Linked DNA regions of Homo sapiens. The protein of the gene in region 5 purifies or fractionates together with the protein of the main gene of each other region. This does not show direct contact. Each region holds a gene or a part of one and is shown on either strand. Other genes may lie near its edges.

Evidence for each region.
Region 1: the proteins of MMP2 (region 5) and ITGAV purify together in Homo sapiens (affinity purification with western blotting; 2 studies listed by BioGRID). This does not show direct contact.
Region 2: the proteins of MMP2 (region 5) and KLHL15 purify together in Homo sapiens (affinity purification with mass spectrometry; 2 studies listed by BioGRID and IntAct, with this or other methods). This does not show direct contact.
Region 3: the proteins of MMP2 (region 5) and SUPV3L1 fractionate together in Homo sapiens (co-fractionation; one large-scale study listed by BioGRID). This does not show direct contact.
Region 4: the proteins of MMP2 (region 5) and COL6A1 purify together in Homo sapiens (co-immunoprecipitation; 3 studies listed by BioGRID and IntAct, with this or other methods). This does not show direct contact.
Region 6: the proteins of MMP2 (region 5) and ANXA2 purify together in Homo sapiens (co-immunoprecipitation; one large-scale study listed by IntAct). This does not show direct contact.
Region 7: the proteins of MMP2 (region 5) and SPNS1 fractionate together in Homo sapiens (co-fractionation; one large-scale study listed by BioGRID). This does not show direct contact.

What each region holds. Positions count from the first base shown.
Region 1 is NC_000002.12:186,634,745-186,638,740, forward strand, and holds part of ITGAV (integrin alpha-V isoform 1 preproprotein), read left to right. Parts: intron 1-1,337; coding exon 1,338-1,463; intron 1,464-2,320; coding exon 2,321-2,365; intron 2,366-3,532; coding exon 3,533-3,576; intron 3,577-3,664; coding exon 3,665-3,721; intron 3,722-3,996.
Region 2 is NC_000023.11:24,017,059-24,021,054, forward strand, and holds part of KLHL15 (kelch-like protein 15), read right to left. Parts: intron 1-3,996. UniProt on the Homo sapiens protein: Substrate-specific adapter for CUL3 E3 ubiquitin-protein ligase complex.
Region 3 is NC_000010.11:69,186,432-69,190,427, reverse strand, and holds part of SUPV3L1 (ATP-dependent RNA helicase SUPV3L1, mitochondrial), read right to left. Parts: intron 3,986-3,996; coding exon 3,878-3,985; intron 3,035-3,877; coding exon of another isoform or gene 2,962-3,034; intron 2,787-2,961; coding exon 2,672-2,786; intron 1,162-2,671; coding exon 993-1,161; intron 1-992. UniProt on the Homo sapiens protein: Major helicase player in mitochondrial RNA metabolism. Component of the mitochondrial degradosome (mtEXO) complex, that degrades 3' overhang double-stranded RNA with a 3'-to-5' directionality in an ATP-dependent manner.
Region 4 is NC_000021.9:45,984,671-45,988,666, reverse strand, and holds part of COL6A1 (collagen alpha-1(VI) chain precursor), read right to left. Parts: intron 2,142-3,996; coding exon 1,982-2,141; intron 1,724-1,981; coding exon 1,595-1,723; intron 1,513-1,594; coding exon 1,492-1,512; intron 1,169-1,491; coding exon 1,148-1,168; intron 1,058-1,147; coding exon 1,013-1,057; intron 1-1,012. UniProt on the Homo sapiens protein: Collagen VI acts as a cell-binding protein.
Region 5 is NC_000016.10:55,485,586-55,489,581, forward strand, and holds part of MMP2 (72 kDa type IV collagenase isoform 1 preproprotein), read left to right. Parts: intron 1-18; coding exon 19-192; intron 193-2,957; coding exon 2,958-3,131; intron 3,132-3,996.
Region 6 is NC_000015.10:60,363,236-60,367,231, forward strand, and holds part of ANXA2 (annexin A2), read right to left. Parts: intron 1,289-3,996; coding exon 1,194-1,288; intron 1-1,193. UniProt on the Homo sapiens protein: Calcium-regulated membrane-binding protein whose affinity for calcium is greatly enhanced by anionic phospholipids. It binds two calcium ions with high affinity. May be involved in heat-stress response.
Region 7 is NC_000016.10:28,977,282-28,981,277, reverse strand, and holds part of SPNS1 (protein spinster homolog 1), read right to left. Parts: intron 3,371-3,996; coding exon 3,234-3,370; intron 2,124-3,233; coding exon 1,972-2,123; intron 1,874-1,971; coding exon 1,807-1,873; intron 1-1,806. UniProt on the Homo sapiens protein: Plays a critical role in the phospholipid salvage pathway from lysosomes to the cytosol.

The DNA.
Region 1 (3,996 bases), on a different chromosome or scaffold from region 5:
ACAAAAATAGCAGTTCTAAAGTACATATGAGAAAATAGGGGATATTAACACTTTATAGTTAGATATAGAAATATGGATTTATTTTTCTTCTTTATTGCTGATTATGTCATTCAGTGGAGGGGAAGGAAGTATCTGATGAGCATGCCTGGGAACCAAAACTGTCAAGGAAGCTAAATTTTGTGATTCTCAGTTAGGACTACTTGTTAACTCTGTCTTTTTAAGAGATACAGCTGTGAAAATGTATGACCTTTTTTTTTAATGCCATGGGTATTGCATAAATAGGAATAATAATAAATAGGAATGTGTAATAATTAGGACACAGTAATAAATTAGGACAGAGAGGTACTATTAATATTATATTTATTAGAATTTTATTACAAGTTGTCTGTAATATATAGCTAGCAGACTCAGTGAATTGGCAAATAGTATTTTGTTTTAATAAGATTAAAATCAGCAGATGTCACCCTGGATAAGTACGTTAGAATGAATTTTTTCACAGATCTCAGAATTGTCGTTGTTAGAATGGAGAAAAGAATAATGTTTTATTCAGAAGAAATAATGAATTTTCCTCTGTTCTTCAATTCAGGAAATGTTTATTGAATTTCATATGTTCTTGGTACCGCTGAAGCCCAGATGATAAAGTAGTGACCTGGACAGAGAAAGTGCTTCTGTGCTGTAGATCCAGTCTCTGTGACTGAACAGATGGGAACAGGACTGAAAATGTTAGCTGTTACACATTTCTTTCTAAAACAGCAGAAATGATAAGAGATTACTGTGTCCATATTGTGGAGACAACACTTGATAAACCAGCTATCCTTTCTTGGCATGGAGGGCAGGCTGATTTTTGTGTAGTCATCTAGATTTCTTGTCTGCTTAATAACAAGGTTGTGAACAAAGGTGAACTCATCCATTCAGGTTGTTTCCTAAAGATGTTTAAATTACTAGTTAAAAAATATCAATTGAACCAATTATTCTGATTATAAAAGTAACAGTATTGTTTCAGTAAATTTTTCATGTTTTAATGGATTAGTTGGGTGATAGCCTTTGATTTTATTATTCCGTGTATTTAACATTGCTTTCTAGTGATTTAAGACAAGTCCTGTTTTCTTAAATTTTTATTAGCAGAGACTACTTTTAAGTACTGGCTTAAACAGAAATAATTTTAAGTTAAGAATATCCATTTTCAAATTGAGTATGATCAAGGAGAGTTATGTACGGCTAATAATTAGAAGTACTAATATCTAATATTGTTTTCCTTCATGCAGGTACCATACATTATCTGTATCATAAAGTTTCCATTTGAAGGTTATTTATTTTATATATACACCCTTTTTTAGGTCAGCTTATTTCGGATCAAGTGGCAGAAATCGTATCTAAATACGACCCCAATGTTTACAGCATCAAGTATAATAACCAATTAGCAACTCGGACTGCACAAGCTATTTTTGATGACAGCTATTTGGGTAGGTAAAACCAAAATTTACTCATTTTTGGAACTGTGGTACATATATCTTATATCTGAGTATGGTCTTTTAAGTAGAAAAATATTTTATGTGAAATAGATTAGGATTTTTTGAAACATACAGAATATACAATTTCAAATTGTTAATGAGTACTTTGGTTATGTTACGTTTCAGTAATTGAAATTGAAGACAGTGATTATTTGTGCAGTGATAATAATAATAGCTAGCCTTTAAGATATGCTTACTGTGTTCTGGGCATTGTTCAAGGTGACTTGGTTTGTATTCACTCATTTAATCCTCACAAGTCAAGCATACTGTATTATTCTCATTTTGTAGGTGAAAACACTGAGGCACTGAGACGCAAAATAACTTGCCCAAAGTCACTCGCTTGTAACTTGCTGTTCAGAGATTCAAATGGAGACAGTCTAACTCCTGAAGTTTTCTTCATGATGTTAAATAAAAGTTTTGGTCTTTAGGACTTATTAACATGTGTTCTCTCTTTCAATTTCTTTATGATATATTAAAACAAGTCATATATGACAGAAATAGTACTTGCTGATTGAGAGAATTTATTTGTTCTTTATGATGAGTTGTAAATTTGGTGTTTTTAACAGACTCCTTTGTAAAGTTAATAAGACAATTGTAGTTTTGTAATAAAAATAGACTATTTGAGTATTTAACTCAGTTTCATTTAAAATTCATATGTCATATATATATGAATCTGTTATGACTAGGGGACAAAATATTGCATAAGTAAAGGAGTTTCTTGAAAATATTTTCAAGGAATGCTTACTCAGCAAGCCTGCTGAAGATAACGTCCTTGTCCTGATGGTTCTCCCCTTTGGTTTCCTGTTTAGGTTATTCTGTGGCTGTCGGAGATTTCAATGGTGATGGCATAGATGGTATGAAGTACTTGAACTATATCTAATCTTTAAAAAAATTAGATTAAGTATTTGAAACATGTGGCATTGAAAATTTTAAGCAGTTTGAGTGGCTGGGTGCTGTGGCTGCAGCCTGTAATCTCAGCACTTTGGGAGGCTGAGGCGGGTGGATCCCTTGAGCCCTGGAGTTCAAGAACAGTCTGGACAACATGGCAAAACCCTGCCTCTAGAAAAAACACAAAAATTAGCCGGGCGCGGTGATGCACACCAGTGTCTAGCTTCTCAGGAGGCTGAGGTGGGAGGATCTCCAGAGCCCAGGGAGGTTGAGGCTGCTGTGAGTTGTGATTGCGCCACTGCACTCCCGCCCGGGCGACAGAGCCGAGACCCTGTCTCAAAAAAAAAAAAAAAAAAGGAAAAGAAAATAAAATTTTAAGCAATTTTAAACCATTGTTATGGAATATAACAGAAGAAATGAGGAAGATGTTAGCACACTGGTGAGAGTCCAGGCTAGGTCTGTGCTGAACTTCCTCTAGTGGCTGCTGAAATTGAGACAGCTACACTTGGCTTCAGTGCCTTTCCTTTCTGCTTCTTTTTAGCCCCCAACACTGTTAGTGATTTCCTTAGCATTTTCCTCCTTGTCTTCAGCAAATTCATTCCTCTGGGAGGAAGAATTAGTGTCTTCTTTCTTTAGGCATCCTTTGTTACCTTCTGGGCCATCTCTGTACGGTTATTACCCCATCCTCTCATTGTCCATCCATCTTCCTTCAGAGCTCCGTTTAGGAATCACAGTCTTTACCTGATTTTGATCACATTTTTGTGCCACAGCCACTTCTACCCCACTTCAGTTTGCTCTGTATTATTTTTCATTACTGTACTACTAAACTAAATGTAGTTTTTCTTCATTCTTAGGTTACTTTATCTTGTCTATTCTTGTTTAACAATATTACAAATGACTTGAGGGCTTATTTGCATATGTTTGAGAGCCCTCCAGAATTTGTATTTTGTAAATTTTGATTTTATAGTTTAAAAATGCTGGGCTATTTATTACGGAGTACCAATTTTTCTAAATTGATTGTTTGTTTTGAACTGAAGTAGTAAAACTTAAAGCTTGCTGACATAGTCACTTCTGGTCTGCAACTTCCAGTGTTGTCCTAAAAAATGAATAATTTGTTTGTTTGTTTGTTTCAGACTTTGTTTCAGGAGTTCCAAGAGCAGCAAGGACTTTGGGAATGGTAGGACAGTTAAAAGGTATTTTTTAAAAAATCTCTAAGTTATCTTCTATTTTACCAGATTTCACATACTTCTATTTTTCCTTCACAGGTTTATATTTATGATGGGAAGAACATGTCCTCCTTATACAATTTTACTGGCGAGCAGGTATGCTTCCAAAATATGATCGTCCTCTCCCACTATAAAAGCAGTATGTACTCATTGGAGAAAATTTGCGAAATAAAACTGTAAAAATGAACTATAATCTCATCAAATAGATAATTCTTCCAACTCTTACCATTTTGGTCAAACTATTATCATTTCTCTTTTGAGCGTGTGTGTGTGTGTGTGTGTGTGTGTGTGTGTGTGTGTGTAGTATATAAACAAAAATTGGTTTACTCTGTATTTTTCATTTTGTCTTGCCTTTTTCACTCAATATTTTA
Region 2 (3,996 bases), on a different chromosome or scaffold from region 5:
AAAATTAGCTGGGCGTGGTAGTGTGTGCCTGTAGTCTCAGCTACTTGGGAGACTGAGGCAGGAAGATTGCTTGAGCCCAGGAGGCAGAGGTTGCAGTGAGCTGAGATGGCGCCATTGTACTCCAGCCTGGGCAACAAACTAAGAGCCTGTCTCAAAAAAAAAAAAAAAAAAATTAGATTCTATTTGCAAAAAATACAAAATAGTGTGGTCGGAAAGAGCAAAACCTCTGAAATCAGAGTGCTTACTGTGTGACCTACAGAAATTTTGTTAACTTCCTATCTTGGTTTCCATCCATACATTACTAATAATCATCATCATCTTATTATCAAGTTAGGGTGGTGAATAAATGAATTAACCTAAGTGAGAACCCTCAGTCTCCCCTCTCTACCAACCCCATGCCTCCCTAGGGTTTATCATAATGCAGATTTATAACAGATCAGAGTCAGGCGCAGTGGCTCACGTCTATAATCCCACCACTTTGGGAGGCCGAGATGGGCATATCGCTTGAGCTCGGGAGTTCGAGGCCAGCATGGGCAACGTGGCAAAACCCCATCTCTACTAAAAACATAAAAATTAGTCAGACGTGGTGGTGTGTGACTGTAGTCCCAGCTACTCAGGAGGCTGAGGTCAGAGGATAAACTGAGCCCGGGAGGCCGAGGCTGCAATGAGCTATAATCCACCACTGAACTTCAGCCTGGGCAACAGAGTGAGACCATGTCCCAAAAAAAAAAAAAAAAAAAAAAAAAAATTGTGTACATAATTCTTTAACTGGTTACAGCGGCCTCATGCCTGTAATCCCAACATTTTGGGAGGCAAGGCACGAGGATCACTTGATCCAGTTCAAGACCAGCCTGGGCAATGTGGCCAGACCTCTTCCCTACAAAAAAATTTTTTTAAATAGCAGAGCTTGGTGGCGTGCTCCTGTGGCCCCAGCTACTTGGGAGGCTGAGGCAGGAAAATCGCTTGCGGTGAGGATGTCGAGGCTGCAGTGAACCACGATGAAGCCACTGCATTCCAGTCTGGGCAACAGAACAAGGCCCTGTCTCTAAAAAGAAATCTAAGTACAGAATTATATCAATTTAAGGAAGAAAACTATTATAAGAACTACTTTGCAATGGCAGAGACAGCCGCGGCAGCAGTAGCGTGCTCAACAAGAAGTGCGTAGCCCCACTCTCCCAAAAGAAAAAAACGAATCATTGTAAAACACAAAAACCTTAAATAAGAACTCTTTAAATGAGTGCTGGAGGAAAAATTTAAGAGGCTTTGAGGAAAAACATTTACTGACAAAATGTTCAATGTACAAAAATTCTGTATCCTTACTTTTCATATATAGGTTTATCAACACTTTATACATGGCCTTCAGAATTTCAAATAGTAGGTTTTTTTTTTTTCAAGAGGGAAACCAATTAGACCAAATGACAAGGCATACTTATACTACCAGGAAAGAAATACTGAAGAACGTGTCTTGTTTCATAAACTTGGTACTGACTAAATAAAAGAAAGCCTCACATTTTTGTGCCTAAGAATGATTAGTATAGGGATTCTCAAAGCATGATCTGGGGACAAGTGAATCCAGTTGTCCTAAAAGATCCCAGTCCCCACTAAAGGGGCTTCCCAATGTCAAAATTATTATCCAAATAATTTTTTTAAAGTTATTGGTCAGCCGGGCACAGTGGCTCACATCCGTGATCCTAGCACCTTGGGAGGTAGAGGTGGGCTGATCACTTGAGCTCAGGAGTTCAAAACCAGCCTGGTCAATATGGTGAAACCCTATCTCTACTAAAAAATACAAAACTTAGCCAGGGGTGATGGCATGTGCGTCTGATTCCAGCTACTCAGGAGGGTGAGGCACGAGAATTGCTTGAACCCAGGAGGCAGAGGTTGCAGTGAGCCAAGATTGCGCCACCTCCAGCCAGGGCGACAGAGCAAGACTCCTTCTCAAAATAAATACATAAATAAAGAATAGTTATTTGTCTTTTTCACTTTCATTCTGTTTTCTAGAGGTTTACACATGGTATGTGATATTGCAACAGACTGAATGCAGAAGCTGATGAGAAGCCCATTGGCTTTTATTAAGCCAGATATTAAAGAGATATGCAAAAATTTAAAACAATGCCACTCTTTTCACCAAGTTCTTAACTGTTTTAGAAAAGTTATTTTTCATAAAAAAATGTTATTTAGGTTACCATGTAATAGAATTAATTTTTATTTGTTTATTTATTTTTTGAGACAGTCTCACTCTGCACCCAGGCTGGAGTACAGTGGCATGATCTCTGCAACCTCTGCTCCGGGGTTCAAGCGATTCTCCTGCCTCAGCCTCCTGAGTAGCTGGGATTACAGGAGCCCACCACCACGCCCAGCTCATTTTTTTATTTTTAGTAGAGACGGAGTTTCACCATGTTGCCCAGGCTGGTCTCGAACTCCTGGCCTCAAGCGATCCACCCGCCTCGGCCTCTCAAAGTGCTGGGATTACAGGTGTGAGCCACCAAGCCCGGCCCCCACTAATTTTTAAGAGTACAAATAAGTACAAAGAAGTCCTGAGACCACAGGCTTGAGAACAACTGAAAGTGTAAGAGATAAGTGACAACACACACACACACACACACACGTGCACGCACAAACCTCAACCTCTTCCTACCTCTGCCCTGGAAGACTATTACTGCTATTTATATCACAGAATTTTTGAACACTTCAAACTCTCTAGTGACCAGTAAAAAAAGAAGTTTGGTGGGGGTAAAACTGGACAGGAAATTAAAGGCAAAGAAATTAAATGCTTCCTTTTCAGTTATAAGGCTGCCATTCTGATGTGAAGGCAAAATTATAGGCAATTAAAAGACATTTCAAAATTAACCTCTATGTTTGTGCCATAAGCAATAATTTATTGCTTTCACATTCCTTCCACAGCTGCTTGAAAATTCATACAAAAGCTTAAGGTATTCAATGCAAAAGCTAGATTCTCAGAGGTTGATATAATATACTTACCCTCAATGAAAAATTTAAATGATTTCATACTATCTTCATCCCCAAACTGTTCTCCTACCAAAATTGATGCCTATGCAGAAAATGCCACAGTTGCATATCGAAAAGAGAATGCAAAGGCTTACTACGGATAAAAACAGAATTAATTTCTGAGTCATAACATTTCTCACTTCTGTAACCCATAAAGTAAAAAAATGTAAATTTGACAATCTCAAAGCAGCCAACTTCTCAACATACCAATATAAAAGAAAAGACAAATTTAAAGACAGACTTTTAAGCTCTATTAGCGGTCACTTTACTCTCAATACACTACTCAAATTGAAAACTCACTTTAATATGGGAGGAGACGTTGTGTAAGTTAACTTTAATTTGTTTAATACTGGAAATTCTTTCTTGTCATCAAAATATTTTTATAACTCAGGACCAAATTGCAAATGACCATTTAACTAAGCTATTAGGAGGGCCCTGGGTCCTCCAGCCTCCAGACTGGCACCAAATTACTTCACTTTTCAGGTATGTTTAGCATTTCGTCATCCTATAATACAAGAAGCCTTATAAGAAAAAAAAAACCCTGCTTGAATGCTATTTTTCATCAGAAGACTTTAATTTAATGCTTCTCTGCTTATTCCACACTATGACTAGAAGTAGTCCAAGAGTGATGTCATGGAAAACAGCTTCCCTAGCCTTTAGAGATTGGATCCAGTGAGAATTCTAGGAAAAGCCTCTATTGGGGAATAAAACCCCAAATCTTCTAAGTTCTATTCTAACATGAAATCACAAATACTGTAATGTTAGCCTTTCAGTTCCTCATAAGAATTATACAACCAAACTAAATATTTTGGAAAGTCTTGCTGTTATGATACAGATTTCCTGCAAATCATTAGTCTATAATATATATCATTAACTAAATTCAAAGATCTTATCAGAGACAAAGGGTATTTTTTTCTATCCATTCTTACATGTTTCAGTGATTGAGCCTGATGAGCTTTAAGGGTCTTACGTTAAAAACAGAAAACC
Region 3 (3,996 bases), on a different chromosome or scaffold from region 5:
GAATGCAAATTACCTACCAAAACTGGTTAAACTCACATTATAAAGTCATAATAAAACAATGAACCAAAATGTAGCCCATTTAGTGAAAATGATGCCTCAGACTACAGGGCTTCAGTCCTTTCAGTTTTGAAAAGGTAGCTTCAGTCTTTATCATTAGCTCTAGCTGATAGCATCAGAGGTCTAATCTATAAAAGGTAAATTAAATATCATAGAGTAGTGCTTAACTCTGATGGGGCAAAGGACTACAGAGTTTTGAGAGTAGCAACAATATTTTATTTCTTAAAAAAGTAAGTGAAGCAAGTATGATAAAATGTAAAGATATGATGAGGTGGTGTAATAGGTTCAAGCTTATTTGTATGTTACTTTCTGCATTTCTCTACATATGTAAAATGTTCTTCAATATTGTATTTCATTCACTGTACTGGCACATGTTTTCATGTTTTTGTATCTCTGAAATCAAGATGCATCTTAAGAATTGATAGAGCTGGGTGCGGTGGCTCACGCCTGTAATCCCAGCACTTTGGGAGGCCGAGACGGGCAGATCACGAGGTCAGGAGATTGAGACCATCCTGGCTAACATGGTGAAACCCCGTCTCTACTAAAAATACAAAAAATTAGCCAGGCGTGGTGGTGGGCGCCTGTAGTCCCAGCTACTGGGGAGGCTGAGGCAAGAGAATGGCATGAACCCGAGAGGCGGAGCTTGCAGTGAGCCAAGATCGCACCACTGCACTCCAGCCTGGGTGACAAAGCGAGACTCCATCTCAAAAAAAAAAAAAAAAAAGAATTGATAGCATGTCAGAGTCAGTTGGTAGCATCTTTTTCTTTCTTAACTGTATATAAAATAATGGTACATCTTACAATTGACAGCCTCTTAGACACAATGAAATATGGTAATTTCTTGTTAACAGTAAATTACTACAAACATCTTTTCCCACTCCCACCAAAAAAGAAAATTAAGAAAAAAATGAGCAAATATTTGGTAATATACTGACAGCAGCATTACTCTTTTCGAAGATCTCATGTGCCAGTAATTTTAGAGGGCCACAATACACTCCAGACTTTGCTGAGAAGTATTTCTGGATTGCGTGATAAGTCTTTCCACTGTTTGTGGGGCCTGAATGAAATATTATCTTCCGCTGCATGGCTCTAGCATCTGGGTACCTAAAACATGAGTAGGTAAACAGCTTAATCCATTAACCTCAAAATCCATCCTGGCAAAGACAGCAAATGAAACAAATTCCAAATGAAATATCCTCTTAATGTTCACAAGATCAAGTCTTTGAAAAACTAAACAATGGGTTTCATATCCACATTAAAATAATGACTGGTTTCCAAGAATAGCATTTACTAACTAGAGGACAGAAAAACCCAAATGCAAATTAATGTCTTGGAAATTTTTCCCATTGTACAAATCTCTTTTTCTCAGCGGTTACTAAAAATAAATTTAAGCTGCTATCAGTTCCATACTATGTTCACATCATTCCCACAGCTCTAAACACATAACTCTAAAGGCAAACATTCCCAGGCCCCTGAATTCCAACATACACAAATATAATAACAGAGTCTTCTACCTCTGGCCATAGTGGAATAACTGGCACTAGACTTGCCCTCCCACTAAAAACAAGTACAGGCGAGGCATGGTGGCTCACGCCTGTAATCCCAGCACTTTGGGAGGTCAAGGCAGGAGGATCACTTGAGGTCAGGAGCTCGAGACCAGCCTGGCCAACATGGTGAGCCCCCGTATCTATTAAAAATACAAAAATTAACCAGGTGTGGTAGCACACGCCTGTAATCCCAGCTACTCAGGAGGCTGAGGCAGGAGAATCACTTGAACCTGTGAGGTGCAGGTTGCAGTGAGCCGAGAACGCACCACTGCACTCCAGCCTGGGTGACAGAGTGAGACTCTCTCTCAAAAACAAACAAAAAAAATCAAGTACAAAGTGGGGCAAAATACATGCAATAAATGTGTGGGGACATGGGCCACAAGGCAGTGCAGGACTGCAATCCTTGAAAGAAAAGAACACTTGGGATGAGCCGTACTGCACCCCAGCAAGGCATAGGGAGGTGGAACCCAAGCAGAATATGACAGTCCCACTGAAGCGAGCAGCAGAGATTAAGTTCAGAGCTGCTTCAGCAGCTAAAATGTGAAGAATAGACTGTGGAAGAGAAGGGTGCATAGAAGGAGAGCCCAGAAGTCTGTGTGGGGGTTCCCTGCGAATTCCTGGCCAAGGGCTGGGCTAACCATGTACAAGGTAAGAATCGGCAGGGTCTAGGAATGAGCAGCCTACCAAGGGTTTCAGTGGAAAGTCTCAAAGACGTCTCAAGTGCTAGGTGATGTTGCAGTTCCAGCCATGGTGGAAAGAACTCATTAACACCCAGGCGCTCAGCTAAAACACCAGGAAGGCCATAGCTTACACTTAAGGACAACATCCTTAAGTCAGGGCTATTCTAGATCTGCCCTAATAAAACCTAAAACCACACTCAATCCGGATCAAGGTAAGATACCAGTGAATTGCCTAAAAGAGTTAACTGCCTCTTTTTATTTTAGGAAAACAACCTAATCCAGACTCCTTATAATTTGTTATCTAGAATACAATAAAAAAAAATAATGACCACGAATCATCCAAGATTAGAAACTGAAAATTTCAAATCCACAAATGGAGAAACTAACCAGTTAGGTGGTATTCTTAAGTCACTGATTTTACGTAGATCATCCTTACAGTCCAACACAGGAAATATTTGTTTGGCATGTCTCAAGAAAAATGGGAATAAATCATCCGCATGAGCTGGAAAATAAAACACTGTATTAACATGTGCAATCTACATAAAATTCGTAACTAAATTTAGTGAAATCTTTTTTCTTAACAAGCTAAGTTGCGGGGGCACTGCCAGGGTAAAAAGAAAAGTCCTCTCTGGGCACAGTAGCTCACGTCAACAATCCCACCACTTTGGAAAGCTGACCTGGAAGGATGGCTTGAGCCCAGGAGGTTGAGGCTACACACTGAGCTGAGACTGAGCCACTGCACTCCAGAGCCTGGGTGACAGAGTGAGACCGTGTCACAAAAAAAAAAAAAAAAAAAAAAAAAGGAAGAAAAGAAAAAAAAAAGTAGAAAAGTCCTGAGGTTACAGGCCTTATCCTTTTCTGGGATCCTGTTTTGTCTTACTTTTTCCTTTTAATTTATATTTTCAGGAAATTGGCTAGCAACCACCACGTCCTACTCCTTTAGTACAAACAGGCAAAGATTAGCATTGGCAAAAGTTAAATTAAAAATAAAGAACCTAGACATGTACATTACAGAGATGAAGGCGCAAACATTTTTTAAACTTCGAAAACCACAGACAGGCAAAAACATGTGTTTGTTCCTCAGCAAGAATTCTCCACATCTTAGTGGCTCTGAGAGGAGGCTGGGGCATGTCCCATTCTGCGTTGTATCCTCAGTGCTGGGCACAAGGTACAGGTCTAAGAGTCAAATACATAACCAAAGCCAAACTGCCTGTGGGAATGAAACTATGATATTTTGACTTTTTTTTTTTCTTTTATAGCAAGAACTTTGTCCTGATATGAGGGAGAAGGAAGCCAGTGGCAAAAACAGATGGAATCTGCTATGCACTAATTCCAACTTGTGTGAGAGCTTATTTCACTGGGCCCCAGTCTTCCTCCAGTCTAAGACATATGGGTGATGTAATAACCAGCTCAGGGACCCAATATAAAAGCAAACAACCTAGAAGTCATCCTGTGAAAGCACTGAATTATTTACAGAGGATGTTACCAGACCCACTCTAAACCAAATAAGCCCTTCTAGAGAAATGAGCATGAAGTATGAGAAGAAATAGAAGGTATGTTCAATAGGATTTTAAAAAGTCTCTAAACACTTGCCTGCACCGAAGCAAATATCATTCAAAACAATGTGAATGTCCACATCCAGGGAATGAGACTGCATAATATAATTTCTAAAGCTTATGAAAGCTTGGTGGAAGAGACGAGCTGTAGAAACA
Region 4 (3,996 bases), on a different chromosome or scaffold from region 5:
CATCCTATGTGAGCCACACAGAAGCAGGGGACCCACATTCTCACCCTCCTACCTCCAGAAAGGTCCTTCTGAACAGAGTGCGGCTGAGGGCAGGGCGGACAGAGACACCCTCAGAAGCCCCCAGCGCCCCCGGGACAGTCCACACCCTGCACGGCCGGAGCCTGCCTGCTGGACCCCGCCGTCCCTTCCATCTGGACCCCGACATCCCCTCCATCTGGACCCCGCCGTCCCCTCCATCTGGAGCCCCGACGTCCCCTCCATCTGGACCCCGCCGTCCCCTCCATCTGGACCACGCCGTCCCCTCCATCTGGACTCCCGCCGTCCCCTCCATCTGGACCCCGCCGTCCCCTCCATCTGGACCCCGCCGTCCCCTCCATCTGGACCCCGCCGTCCCCTCCATCTGGACCCCGCCGTCCCCTCCATCTGGACCCCGCCGTCCCCTCCATCTGGACCCCCGCCGTCCCCTCCATCTGGAGCCCCGACGTCCCCTCCATCTGGACCCCGCCGTCCCCTCCATCTGGACCACGCCGTCCCCTCCATCTGGACTCCCGCCGTCCCCTCCATCTGGAGCCCCGACGTCCCCTCCATCTGGACCCCGCCGTCCCCTCCATCTGGACCCCGCCGTCCCCTCCATCTGGACCCCGCCGTCCCCTCCATCTGGACTCCCGCCGTCCCCTCCATCTGGAGCCCCGACGTCCCCTCCATCTGGACCCCGCCGTCCCCTCCATCTGGACCCCGCCGTCCCCTCCATCTGGACCCCGCCATCCCCTCCATCTGGACCCCGCCGTCCCCTCCATCTGGACCCCGCCGTCCCCTCCATCTGGACCCCGCCATCCCCTCCATCTGGACTCCCGCCGTCCCCTCCATCTGGACCCCCGCCGTCCCCTCCATCTGGACCCCCGCCGTCCCCTCTGGATCCTCATGGTGGACTTGGGTGCCCAGGAGGCTTTGGTCCTGCCACCCCCACTCCCAGGCCCCACAACACATGGGAGGAGCAGGAGTCACCACTCACCTCAAAGCCGGGGTCGCCCCGGAGCCCCGGAGGTCCTCTTGCAGGCTGCAAGGCAGAGGGGACGGTCAGCCAGGACCCCAGACTCAGGTTCCCAGGGTGCAGGGCGCGGGGTCAGGGGTCGGGGGGCACACTCACCTGGCATTCGAAGGAGCAGCACTGTGGGGGGAAAGCATGGAGACGAGTCAGTGGGAAAGCCACGGACATACGGCTGGGACACAGGGTGACATGCGACCCAGGCACATGGGCAGACGGACACACGGATGGACGCACAGGCGGACACATGTCCCAGGCACATGGGCAGACACACAGGTGGACACGCAGGGGGACACACATCCCGGGCACACGGGCAGACACGCAGGGGACATGTGTCCCGGGCACATGGGCGGATATGCATAGGGACATGCGTCCTGAACACACAGGTGGACGTGTGGGTGGACGTGTGCAGACTCACGGCTGGGGGTGGTGGGGAGGGCTCTTACCACTTGCTCCACGTTATTTTTCTGGAAAGAGAAATGGAAACGCAGAATTACTTTCCACCTGCGGCCGCCGCGGGCCTCCCCGTCTCCTGGGCAGGGGCCTCACGATCATGTCCACGATGGTGTCGATGGTCTGGCTGATGGCCTCCTCTGCGTCGCGGCTCTGGCCCCAGTCAGCCGCCGTGAAGTTGCGCCGGTACGTGTGGTCCGTGGCGATGATGCTCAGACGCGGCTCCTGGGGGCAGTGTTCAGGGTGGGCTGAGCAGGGCTGGGACCCCTGACGGCCGGGGCCGCTTCCCACAGGGCCAGAGGGGAGGCTGGGCTGGGGCGCTCCAGGCTCCTCAGCAGGAGGGGCTGGCCTCTCAGGGGCAAGGGTGGCCGGCTGGAGAACCCACACCCTCCCGAGGACCAAAAGACGGTCCCAGCTGCCGGGGGCCTTGCAGCCGCCACTCCCTGTGGTTGGGGGCATCTGCCGGGGGGGGCCGGTGCCTACCAGGTGGTCGGGTGTGATGGCCACCGAGAAGACTTTGACGCCCAGGTGCTTGGCCTCGTTCACAGCATCCTCCAGCCCCCCACAGGGTTCCTTGTAGCCCTCCAGGGGGTGCCCGTCGGTCACCACAATCAGGTACTTATTCTCCTTCAGGTGGGAGCCCCTGGACAGGAGAGGGCAGCGTGAGACCTCGAGACTAGGTGGGGGAACTGGAGGGAGACCCAAGCCTGTCCGGGAGGTGCTGGTCCCTGTCTCACCGGGAGGAGCCGCCTCTCTTTGCTGATCCTGGCTATACGGTGGGGGTTACTGAAAAGAACCTCACCATGGGAAATAACGCCTGTGGGTCTCATTTCTCTAAACTGCTTTGGAAAATCCACGCCCTCCCAGGAGAGGCACCCATGACCCCAAAGGAGGCTCGGTTCCTGGGGTGCCCTGGGGCGCAAAGCCCCTGACCAGTGAGTGGAGGCTGAGGGTGGCAGGGAGCGTGCCCCTCCGAGATGCCCGCCGCGTCTACCCACAAGCTGCCTCAACTCAAGGCTGCTCGGTCACCGTGGCTCTTGCAGGAAATGGGTGTGATGAGCAAACAACAGGGCGATCCCTGAATGCCCCAAATCCAACCCCCCGAAAGGGAAAGTGGGAGCAGCAGGAAGGAGGGCAGTATCGCAGGGCAGTCGGGCAGCCTGCTGGGGACGCTGAGCATCTCGGCCAGAAGGGCGAGCTCATTTAGGGGAGTCGTGTCTGTCTGTGGCTTCCACAGGGGGCCGCACTCTGACGTGTGTGGCCACATCCCCCATGCACCCCCTGCAGACAGCGGACGACTTCCTGAGACTCCAAGTCCCCCAGGTCCCAGCTTGGCACCAACTCTGGAGGGAAGTGGGCACAACCATTGGAAAGGGAATGTCCGGCCCACACCGGCCATGTGGCCCTCTGAGACCGACCTCGGGGAGAGGCTCTCCCCAAACCCCCCGCACCGCCTGGCTGGACAGGGCAGCCTCGGGTACCCCCACTGGGATCCTGAGGCCTCGTGAAGGGCTGGGTGTGGGGAGGCCACGTTCCCCTCTGGACACTCCGGGGCTTGCGGCCCCTGCGTCCCCACAGCTGGACACTGGGATGAGAGGAAACCCCTCAGTCCAGAAAAACCCCGAGAAAGCGCATGCTTCGGGTCTGATGAGTCTGTTTCAGTGATCCTAGCCCTGCTTGGTGTTGATGCTGTGGGGAAAACCACCCCGTCTCTCTCAGTCTCTCAGTCTCTCTGCCTCTGTTTCCGGTCTCTCTGTCTCTGTCTGTCCCTGTCTCTCTGTCTGTCTCTGTCTGTGCTTCTCTCTCTGTCTCTCTGCCTCTGTCTTTGTCTCTCTCTCTCTGCTTCTATCTCTCTGTCTCCCTCTCTGTCTCTATCTCTCTGTCTCTGTCCCTCTGTCTCTATCTCTCTATTTCTGTCTCTGTCTCTGTCCCTGTCTCTGCTTCTCTCTGTCTCTCTGCCTCTGTCTGTCTCTGCTTCTCTCTGTCTCTCTGTCTCTGTATGTTTCTGTCTCTGTTTCGCTGTCTCTGTCTCTGTCTCTCTGTCTGCCTGTCTCTGCCCCTCTGTCTCTGTCTCTCTGTCTCTGTTTCTGTCTCTGTCTCTGTCTGTCTCTGACTGTCTTTGTTTCTCTGTCTCTGCTTCTCTCTGCCTCTGTCTTTTTCTATCTGTCTCTGTCTCTCTCTGTTTCCCTCTGTCTCTCTCTCTTTCTGTCTCTGTCCCTGTTTCTGTCTCTCTGTCTCTGTTTGTCTGTCTCTGTCTCTGTCTCTCTGTCTCTCTCTGCCTGTCTCTGTCCCTCTGTCTCTGTTTCTGTCTCTGTCTCTCTCTGTCTCTGTCTGCCTGTCTCTGTTCCCGTCTCTGTCTCTCTGTGTCTCTCTCTGTGTCTCTGTCTCTGTCTCTGTTTGTCTCTGTCTGCCTGTCTTGGTCCCTCTGTCACTCTTTGTCTCTGTCTCTCTCTGTCTCTGTCTCTATCTCTCTCTGTCTCTGTCTCTCTCTGTGTCTG
Region 5 (3,996 bases):
TTCCATGTCACTCTTTAGTGGTCCGTGTGAAGTATGGGAACGCCGATGGGGAGTACTGCAAGTTCCCCTTCTTGTTCAATGGCAAGGAGTACAACAGCTGCACTGATACCGGCCGCAGCGATGGCTTCCTCTGGTGCTCCACCACCTACAACTTTGAGAAGGATGGCAAGTACGGCTTCTGTCCCCATGAAGGTGAGCATCCACTCTAGTCCCCAAGACTTTCCACCCCAAGCCTCCAGCTTCCCGGGCTCCCCAGTGTGCTCTTCCCTCCACACTCTCCAGGACTGGCTGCCACTGCCAGTTAATGAGCATCCCTCCAACGTCCTTCACTCAGTTCCCCCCCATCCTGATCTGAGCCATTGCTGTTTCTCTCCCACCAGTACCATGATGAACGTAGTACTCTAATTAAATCAAGTTGATTTTTTTTAAGTTTCACCATTAGCAATCATTTAGGAAGTCACAGATTTGATTTGCTAATTATTTATTTCTAATATATATTGGAGTGAACTTAGAACTATTACAATGCCCAGTGGTTCTCTCTAGAACCAGTCTTTACACTTCAGTCAAGATTGATACTTCAAGGGCATGAGGAAAGGCTTGCTGGTAGCTGGAAACCTAGCAGTGTGATAGGGAGGCAGGACTCAGACCAGGGCTGGACTCAACCTGGTTTGCGTACTCCAACTGAGGAATTTCAGCTATTGCTCCTGCCTTGGTCCTGATGCTGCCTCTGCTAATGCGTGTGTGTGTGTGTGTGTGTGTGCCTGTGTGTGTGTGTGTGTGTGTGTGTGTGTGTGTGTGTGTGTGTCTGGGCACGGGGGCTATACTATCTGCCTCTCTTGGGCACTGTCTTTTTCTGCCTCCTGTCTAGCTTGTGTCTGCATCTCTGTGTCTTGATAAAGACTTTAGGCTTGACTCAGTATTTGTGTTTGTGTGCTTGTCAGTGCCTGAGATGCAACATTTCAGAGATTTTGAAGCCACATGGGGGAAATCTTTTAAAATGGGGTACAGATATTGACATACACACTCAATCCTTTTTAAAAATATCCTTGACACACTTAATAGTCATAAATCACAAAAAGACAATGTAACTTCATACTCTATGAAGTCATCATATTTGATAATTCTGCAGATTGAAAGCCCAGAAAACCTGGCGAAAATGGAAAAAAGTCTAAAAATTTTTAACACTATCTTCTTTCCCATGTCACAAAGACTCTATAGTCTACATAGACTAAAGACTGTCTTTTTGTCTGTAATTTTATGTCTGTGAATCTCCCTAACCCCACTGTAACTGAAAACTAAGCACCAACCATCTTGACAGAATGAAAGAAACAAAGAGCTAGTTAATTCCCTTCCTGTTTATGCTTTTACTACCAGAGCTAAACTTTATATTAAGTAAGAGTTTAAGCCATTCACCATTAATAAGTCAGACATTTTGAAATAAAAATATTTTTTGTATCTTGCGTTTCCCGGTAGGGATTACATGTGGCGTTAACCCTTCCCTGTGTCACCCCTCTGATAGGAACAGAAAGCTTTGGTGATAGTTAGATGTGGAAACAGCTGTATTTCATAAATTTGGGAAGGGTTATTCCCTGCATTGGACATTAGCCATTTACTTTGTGCTTAGCCAGATGCAAGTACGCACAACACGCACGTGTCTGGGTCTCGAGGCAGAGATTGTTGTTACTCAGCCCCTGCTGATGGCTGAGTCAGTGTCTGATTCTTGCCATCCTTGTCAGGGGAATTTGGGAGGAGACAGGGGCTTCCTGGGTGGTAGAAATGAGAGGTCAGAGGCAGGGGGCTGGCATTGGTCGAAGTTAACGCTTTGCCTTTCTCAACTCTGAGGCCACTAAGGTATCTGGACTCAGTCTTGCCTTTTCTCTAGGTGCCATTGTTTCTGGCATTGCAGGACAAGGTCTTTTGGTAGAGAGGGGAGTGGTGAGGATACAGGGCCTCGAGTTCTGTGGTGGGAGGCCAGGGACTGGGCTCCATTCCGGCCATGGTGGAGTTAACGGGGGCTGGTGAGGTCACCTCTGGCGCCGTTGTGCACAGATGGTCCTTGTTATGGACTTGTGGTTTTGCTGGTTGGCAATTCCAGAGACACCATTTTTTAGCTTTGGGTGGATGAGGGGAGGATGGGGAGAATCCAAGACAGACAGGCCAGGCTCTGAACCCCACTCCCTCCCCCAACTCTCCATTTATGGCCCCTGTCTTGAAGATGTCAAAGTAGGAGCCCAGAGTGTTTAGTAAAAGGGACCTGAAGGCACCACCTCCCTCTCCCTCCCTCCTCCTCTTCATTCTTTCTCTCCTTCCTACAGAGACTGCAACAAGGCCATCCAGGAAGGGGCCTGGGGTTGACAGGAGGTAAAGCAAGCTTTCTGTGTATGCGTGTGCACGCACACACACATATATGAGAGTGACAGACTAAGCAAGAGAGATTGAGATTAGTGTGTTTTGTAGTTTTTAGTTACAACCTTCATTCACTTCTTTCATTTCTGTGACCATGAGCAGTTTGAGAACCATCTTTGTCCTAGCCTTGATTTCTCCACCTATCAAATGGAGAGAGATTCTCGTGGTCCTGCCTGCCATGACTGATATATTCATGTCATACATCATTATTACATGAAATTTGCATGGTACAGGTGTGGACCAGGCAGAATGGACAGTGCCCTTGGGGCTGAGGCAGGGTTCTAGAAGCCCTTGCTGTGTGCCAGGTGTCAATCATTTTGTTGTTGGGTGGTCCACAAGGTCCCACGGGAGGGATTGGGATAACCAGGGAAGCAGGGGTTCTCTCTGGGAGCTCAGAGAAGCAGCTCCTTACCAACCAGTAGAGATGTTTTCTTAATATTTTAACAATGCATCAACTTCACTGGTGTGAACCGGCAGGTGGGCAGCCAGCCAGCCCTGTGCCCATGGAAGCATGTCTCATTCACATCCTTCCCTCTCTCCCCCACCCTTAGCCCTGTTCACCATGGGCGGCAACGCTGAAGGACAGCCCTGCAAGTTTCCATTCCGCTTCCAGGGCACATCCTATGACAGCTGCACCACTGAGGGCCGCACGGATGGCTACCGCTGGTGCGGCACCACTGAGGACTACGACCGCGACAAGAAGTATGGCTTCTGCCCTGAGACCGGTGGGTGCCACTCCCTCTCCCTCCCTCAGGGCCCAGCACCTGCTGTCTGACAAAAAAAAAACCCATAAGACTCCGAGTGCCCACCTCCTTTCCCCAAGACAGGGGTGCTAAGACATCTGTGCGAATGACATCCACACCAAGATGTCCGTGTAGCTAGTCAGGATACTTGTCACCTGGTATGGCCTGGGCACTGAAATCAGAACAGACATTGGGCATCAACAGTTGAATTGGTGACACTTAAATGTCAGGCCTGCTCAGGATCCTCTGACCGACCTGCATCCCTTTTCTCTCAGGCTCTCTGGCAGAGACTTCTCTCTCCTCCTCTCTGACCCTGCAATCTCTCTTCCCTGCCTTTCCTGGTCTGTATCTCCACCTTTTAGTCTGTTTTTTATTAAGAGCTCCGTGCTTTCCTCCCTGTCTCCTTCCTGCCCTCCTCTCTATCCCTCCCTCCTTTCCTTCTTCCCTTCCTCCAACAGGAATTTACTGAGCGCCTGCTTTGTGCAGCATACACAGAGGTTGGTCTCTGCAAAGCCCTGCCCAAGGGGGCTCACAGCTGAGGGGCATGTGCTGGTGCCATCAGCTTCATCCAACTCCCTTTGCCCCTAGCCCATCTGCCCCCTTCCATGGGAGGCTCATTAGAACTCTGGAATCTGGCTTCCTGGGTTTGAATTGCAGCTCTGATACTTCCTAGCAGTGTTGGCTTAGGGAAATTTCATCATCTCTCTGATCTATTTCCCATCCATGAAACGCGGTGCTATTCAGTCCCTCCTGCACAAGGCTGTTGTCAGGGGTGGGTGAGATGAGTCTAAAGATACAGTGCCTGGGACTGAGTCTAACTTAGGTGTGGTTCATTAAGGTCAGCGTC
Region 6 (3,996 bases), on a different chromosome or scaffold from region 5:
CCTCTATGCCTCACTACACAAGATTAATACACTTCTAGTGAAAGAAGAATTTTAATGCACTTGAGATGAAAGAAGCCAGATGCTTTCCTATTTATGTCCTTTCCAACCATTTAGAGTGCGGGGGATGGAAGTGTAGCAAGGCTTGACCTGCAACTCCCAGGACCCTGCTGGTCATGTCAATCCCAAGGGCAGAAATATCTCTTCTAGAATCCTTCCAGCTCACCTCCACTGTGGCTACAAGTGAAAGCCATAAGTCAAACGGGAGCTGCAGGAAGCCACACTTACTGCACTGTCCAAGAATAAATCAAAAGCTTTTAATAGCAAGAAGTTAAAAATAAAGCAGCACGTCCTTAAAAATAAAATTTCCTACAACTGACAAAATAAAGGACGAACACGCACTGGTTGTTTCTTAACCACTAGTGGACAAGCAAAGGGAAAAAGCACACAAAGACCCTTTAAATAGTAGGAGCATGGCATGTTGAAGATAGCTTTGCAGACCAAATGAACTAACAACTAAGCCCACTCGTTGCAAAAAGCTTAAGAATTCAAGTGTATATTTTTAAAATGAGAGGAGCTTGTTAGGATCAACACTCAGTGGAGGCTAGTATCCTAAAATTAAATTAGAAACATCTTATCAAGAACCAGCAGAAGTCATAAAGATGAAATGAGTTGCTACATGTACAAAACTGAGCACAGTGCCTGGCCCAAAGTAAGCACTCAATAAATGGTGCCTGTTGTTGTTATTGTTGTTGTTCCCTATTCCTAACTTTCTATTCCCAGAAGCTCTCCCTCCAGGTAGCCTGGGTTGGGGGAGGGTACTGTCCTTACACAGGAGCTCCCAAGCACTCTAAAGCGAGCGTGACCATCTGCGCTCTGCCTCCTCTCAGATCAACGGTGGCATGAGATTCTCACAGAAGCGCGAACCCTACTGTGAACTGCACACGCGAGGGATCTATGTTGTACACTCCTTATGAGAACCTAATGCCTGATGACCTGAGGTGCACGCGCGCGTGCACACACGCACACACACATGTGCAGTGACTCTTACAAGGATTTAAGAAGAAAATCTTAGATATCCAAGGGTCCCACAAGTCTTTTGCGCATGAGAGCCACAATTCATGAAAAGAAAAAGCAATGTCTGAGGAAACAAAAATTCAACAAGAAATGCCCTCCATCCCTGGAATTGCCTGTACCTTTTTGGTCCTTCTCTGGTAGGCGAAGGCAATATCCTGTCTCTGTGCATTGCTGCGGTTGGTCAAAATGTTGACAATGGTGACCTCATCCACACCTATGGAAATACAAGTTGTTAATCGTTACTCAGTATACTCTAGTATTTTGGGCTTACATAGAAGGTGTCAAGCAGACTTTTTCAAACTGAAATTTATATACTGTTTTCCAAACTGAAATACCCAGACACCAAGATTTGTTCTATCTCTTTCGTCAGCATCCTCTACCCAATGTGTACACTCTCTTTCCTTTTTTCTTGAGAGCCTCAAACCTCAAGCTTAAATGGACCTTTTAAATACTTGTGGTTTAAAAACTATTTTATTCATAAATTGGTTTCTGGAATCAACAGTAGGAGGTGCATATGTGGGGCTTTGGCAGTCAGATGGAACAACAGAGATTTAGTAGGATTTTAAATGAAGGTCCCCAAATTGCCATTTAACTCGGGATTTAATAGAGAGTAACTGCAAACTGAATTAATAGAGATAATTATTTATACTTATTGCAGGATTATGGCTATATAAGCAGCTAGGTATAATTTCTATAATTATAAAAACTGTCATGACAAATGAGTCAGATTTAACACGGCAGTTGTATTTTTAATAGCATAATTGATTAACACAATCACACTTATTGAAGACAAAATTGTTTTGTAAGGAAAATAAACGTTCCACTGCCTTTAATCTTCAATAGGCAATTTTAATAATTAATTTTATAACTTTATTAAAAAGAGTAAGTGTTTTAATCTAAATTAAATCTAAATTGGGAGTTTTGAGGTGCCACCAAAATATTTTAGTACCTATTTTAATTGGAACATGTGTATTTACAAAGATAAGCAATGCCTTCTGGTGTCTGCAAGTTTCCAATTTCATATCAGAAATACTCCTAACATGCCATTTAACTTAAGAAAGCACAGTTTGTAAATTCAGAATGTGAAAAGTCTCTCTCCTGACTGATTAATAACTTTGTTTAATGAAAGAAACAGTCTTTGCCATAACTGGATAGGTAACTCTTGGGTGAGAGAGTAGAGTTGCTAAACCTACAAAGTCACTTGCAAACTACAAATGGCTTGGCCTGAAGAAAATCAGAGGAGTCCTGAAGAAACAGAAAGGTCAAAACTGTAACGCTTGAGACAAAGACAAACAGCAGATTGACAGAGGAAGTATTTTGAATTCTCAAGTGTGTTAGATCAAAAAGTATAAAGTTAGAATTTCTGGGTATAAAAATAAATAACTTTTTAAAATGTATATGCTCATTTCAAAGCAAGTCCATACCAATATGCTTGCTATCTTAACTGTAGCATCTATAACTTTAGCTCTCATTTTTAGAGTAGCCAAGGTAAACATAGAAATCCAATTGCTGCTGAGTCTCCCTCTCCCTCTCCCTCTCCCCCTCCCCCTCCCCCTCCCTCTCCCTCCACGGTCTCCCTCTGATGCCGAGCCAAAGCTGGACGGTACTGCTGCCATCTCGGCTCACTGCAACCTCCCTGCCTGATTCTCCTGCCTCAGCCTGCCGAGTGCCTGCGATTGCAGGCGCGCGCCGCCACGCCTGACTGGTTTTCGTTTTTTTTTGGTGGAGACGGGGTTTCGCTGTGTTGGCCGGGCTGGTCTCCAGCTCCTAACCGCGAGTGATCCGCCAGCCTCGGCCTCCCGAGGTGCTGGGATTGCAGATGGAGTCTCGTTCACTCAGTGCTCAATGGTGCCCAGGCTGGAGTGCAGTGGCGTGATCTCGGCTCGCTACAACCACCTCCCAGCCGCCTGCCTTGGCCTCCCAAAGAGCCCAGATTGCAGCCTCTGCCCGGCCGCCACCCCGTCTGGGAAGTGAGGAGCGTCTCTGCCTGGCCGCCCATCGTCTGGGATATGAGGAGCCCCTCTGCCTGGCTGCCCAGTCTGGAAAGTGAGGAGCGCCTCTTCCCCGCCGCCATCCCATCTAGGAAGTGAGGAGCATCTCTGCGCGGCCGCCCATCGTCTGAGATGTGGGGAGCACCTCTGCCCCACCGCCCTGTCTGGGATGTGAGGAGCGCCTCTGCCCGGCCGCGACCCTGTCTGGGAGATGAGGAGCGTCTCTGCCCGGCCGCTCCGTCTGAGAAGTGAGGAAACCCTCTGCCTGGCAACCGCCCCGTCTGAGAAGTGAGGAGCCCCTCCGTCCGGCAACCACCCCGTCTGGGAAGTGAGGAGCGTCTCCGCCCGGCAGCCACCCCGTCCGGGAGGGAGGTGGGGGGGGTCAGCCCCCCGCCCGGCCAGCCGCCCCGTCCGGGAGGTGAGGGGCTCCTCTGCCCGGCCGCCCCTACTGGGAAGTGAGGAGCCCCTCTGCCCGGCCAGCCGCCCCGTCCGGGAGGGAGGCGGGGGGGGGGGGGGTCGGCCAGCCGCCCCGTCCGGGAGGGAGGTGGGGGGGTCAGCCCCCCGCCCGGCCGGCCGCCCCGTCCGGGAGGTGAGGGGCGCCTCTGCCCGGCCGCCCCTACTGGGAAGTGAGGACCCCTCTGCCCGGCCAGCCGCCCCGTCCGGGAGGGAGGTGGGGGGGTCAGCCCCCCGCCCGGCCAGCCGCCCAGTCCGGGAGGGAGGTGGGGGGTCAGCCCCCCGCCCGGCCAGCCGCCCCGTCCGGGAGGGGGGAGGGGGGATCAGCCCCCCGCCTGGCCAGCCGCCCCATCCGGGAGGGAGGTGGGGGGGTCAGCCCCCCGCCCGGCCAGCCGCCCCGTCCGGGAGGGGGGAGGGGGGGTCAGCCCCCCGTCCGGCCAGCCGCCCCGTCCGGGAGGGAGGTGGGGGGGGTCAGCCC
Region 7 (3,996 bases), about 27 Mb from region 5:
AGCTTTGTCTCCTCTTTGGTAATTTTCTTTTGGGAAACCAGTACCCCTACTTCTCTCAATCCACTTGGTTTAAATAGGATCCCAGGCTTGGCCAACAAGAGGACTGTTAACCACCCCAGCCTCGGTGACGGATTCCGCAGAGGGCACGTGATGCATGTTCATCTAGTCAGACGCTATCCTGGAAACACGGCCCCAGGGTCCAAGGTGCCAATGTTGCTAAATGGAAAGGTAATCATCTGGAGTTCTCACGTCCTTAAGAATGATGTTAACACAAAGGAAAGTAAAGCTCAGAAGAGAAGGGCAGTGTGGGAGCCCTGGATCCAGCTTTACCTGACTGAAGCTCACCTGGGACTTTCAGGAAGAAAGCCAAGACAGCCCCTTTAGGGGGCTTACGGTTTGTTTGTTTGTTTGTTTGTTTGTTTTCGAGACAGAGTCTCACTCTGTCACCCAGGCTGGAGTGCAGTGGTGCGATCTCGGCTCACTGCAACCTCCGCCTACTGGGTTCACGCCATTCTCCTGCCTCGGCCTCCTGAGTAGCTGGGACTACAGGCACCTGCCACCACGCCCAGCTAATTTTTTTTTGTATTTTTAGTAGAGACGGGATTTCACTGTGTTAGCCAGGGTGGTCTCAATCTCCTGACCTTGTGATCCACCCACCTTGGCCTCCCAAAGTGCTGGAATTACAGGTGTGAGCCACCGCACCCGGCCTCTAGGGGGCTTACAGTTTTACAATGGGCTTCTGTCACCTGCACGCAAGAATTCTGTCTAGCACATGGCTTCCAGGTGAGGGCAGCCAGTCTCCTGCAGGCTCAGCAGAATGAGAGCTGCCCCAAAAAAGGGGTATTTGGAGCCAGGCGCATGGCTCACACCCGTAAGCCCAGCACTTTAGGAGGCCAAGGCAAGAGGATTGCTTGAGGCCAGGAGTTCAAAACCAACCTGGGCAACATACAAAGACCCCATCTCTACAAAAAAAAAAAATTTTGTGTGTGCAATGGCACGATCTCTGCTCACTGCAACCTCTGCCTCCCGGGTTCAAGCGATTCTCCTGCCTCAGCCTCCCGAGTAGCTGAGATTACAGGCATGCGTCACCATGCCTGGCTAATTATGTATTTTTAGTAGAGACAGGGTTTCACCATGTTGGTCAAGCTGGCCTAGAACTCCTGACCTCAGGTGATCCGCCCACCTCAGCCTCCCAAAGTGCTGGGATTATAGGCGTGAGCCATCATGCCTGGCAAAATTTTTTTTTTTTTTTTTTGAGAAGGAGTCTCGCACTGTCGCCCAGGCTAGAGTGCAGTGGCACAATCTCAGCTTGCTGCAACCTCCGCCTCCTGGGTTCAAGTGATTCTCCTACCTCAGCCCCCCGAGTAGCTGGGATTACAGGCATGCACCACCACGCCCAGCTAATTTTTGTATTTTTAGTAGAGACAGGGTTTCACCATGTTGGCCAGGCTGGTCTTGAATTCCTGACCTCAAGTGATCCACCTGCCTCAGCCTCCCAAAATGCTGGGATACAGGTGTTAGCCACCACACCCAGCCTACAAAAAGAAAAAGTTTTTTTAATTAGCCAGGCATGGTGGCGGGCACCTATAGTCCCAGCTACTTGGGAGGCTGAGGTGGGAGGATCACTTGAGCTCAGGCGTTCCAGGCTACAGTGAGCTATGACTGCACCACTGCACTGCAGCCTGGGTGACACAACAAGACCCTGTCTCTTAAAAGAAAAATGGGCGGTGGGAAGGGGTCCAAAGGTAGGAAACAGGGATCAGTGAGAACGTCGCTGACCTACCCCCAGGCCAAGACCAGACTCACCCTCAGAGCCCAGTGCCAGTCTCCAGCCATATCCTTCACTTTGGAGCCTGCAATGTAGCCCAGACCACTGTGGGAGGGAGAGAGGGGAAAAAGGGGGGACAGCCAGTCAGTCCAGTCCCCCACACCAGGCCCTTCTGCCTTCCCCCAGGCCCCAGGCCCACTCACCTGCCCACCGGAATGGCAAAGTAGAAGATGCTGAGCATCCGGCTCCGCTGGTCGGCCACAAAGAGGTCGGCAATGAGAGTGGGCGCGATGGTGGAATAACTGGCCTCCCCGACCCCCACCAGGCCCCGGGTCAGGAGGAGCAGCCAGAAATGCTGGGGAGAGAGACCGGGGAGAGGTGGCACCCCAGCCTGCAACCAGCCTCCGGGCTACCTCACCAGCCCGCTCCCAAGAGGCAGCAGGGATGGCGGGAGATGCCTGGGTTTTAGAATCACACAGACCTGAGCTTGCATCCTGGCTCCACCACTTACTAGCTGCGATTTGGGGAAAATAACTTAACCTCTCTGAGCCTCAGTTTCCTCATCTGCAAAAGGAGGATAACAACAACTTTTCACAGAGCTATTGCAAGGACTAGACAATAAAAGGTCTAAATAAGACAACCCCTGCTTGCCTGGTAGGGGAAAGTTTTTTAATTTTTTTTTTTTAATGAATAAGTGACCTTAGATGGGAGTTTATGTGTCTACCAAAGGCACCTGAAGCTAAGGACGGGTACAGTCACCCAAGGAAAGTACGTAGGTCCTGGGGCTGAGGACAGAGTTCTGGGGTGGAGTGAGAACAGACAGAGGAGGCTTCAAAGGAACAAAGAAGCAACAGCCAGGGAGGCAGGAGGAAAGCCAGAAGAGTGTGGCATCGCAAAGGTAGGAGAGAGTTTCAGGAAGGAAGAGTGGGTCAACAGTGCCAGAGGCTCCTAGCATGAACAGGACCAGGAAGTTGGAGCTGTGTTTAGCAACTAGGAGGCCACTGTTAACTTTGGCAAGAGCAGGGTCCGTGGAGTGGTGGGAGCAGAAGTCAGTGGCAGCGCTCGAGGGGTGAGCAGGCGTGAGGAAGTGCAGGCAGAGTGATGGCATCTCCCCGGCTGCTCTTTTACCCACACTGGCACCACGCTCTAGGGGCCCTTCAGGAAGTCTGATCAGGAATGAGAGGAGGGAGAGAGGGCAGGCCAGGTAGGGTTTGGAGTGTTTAGGTATGGAGTAGAAGGAGTCAGTGGTCAGGGGAAGAGGGGATAATGGACAGAGAATGCTCTGGAAGAAAAGGGGAGGATGGGGTGGGGCAGGTTAACTCAGGCAAGGAGGGGTATAAAATGGCATGGACCAGGGAAACTGCAGGAGTCCCTGAGGCCCAGTCTGCCATAGCTCCAAGGAGCAGCAGCAGAGACTGACAGGGAGGGGGTGTGGGCAGAAACAGGAGCCAGCTTGGGGCCTCACCTCTCCGGGGATGAAGGATGACCCCAGTGTCACCAGGGACCAGAAGGCAATGCCCCCGCACATGAGATACTTCCGATTGTACCTGTCACCCAGGTAGCCAAACACAGGTGCCAACACCATGTAACTGGAGATGAACACTAGGGGGAAGCAGAGAGTCACAGCTCAGCCCAGGTACCCCTACCTCCCACTCCCACCCCAGCTGGAACCACTAAAGCACAGGAGATGCCTGCCTTCTCCTTACAGAATTCACAACACCCCCACATCCCAGCCTGAAGCCCATCAGAGCTTCCTGTCAGGCGGATGGTCCAGCTCCATCTTGAACACCTTTCCAGATTTCCCATTGTATAATGGATGGTCCCACTACTTGTCAATTCCTTCCACCTAGCCAAAACAAGCTCCAAACTCCATGCATACCATGGCTCACAATGCCCCTGTCCAATCTAGGCCCTGCCTACCTCTCCACACTCATGGCCAGCCTTTTTCCCTTCCTCTGTCTGCATCCCAATGGCCCAATTGTCAAGGCCAATACCACTAGGGGTTTAGGCACCTACTGCCTCCTCTATCAAGGACATTCTCTCCTCTCCCCCTGAAACTTCACAGAGCATAGTTCCTTCAGGTTCCAGCTCAGATACTTGCCCAGGGCCAAGGGTGAAGCATGCTGCCCAGGTGAGCACACATCCAGTACCTGACTCTCACATTTACTTTTTTCTCTTTTTTTTTTTTTTTTTTTTTAAACGAAGTCTCGCTCTGTTGTCAGGTTGGA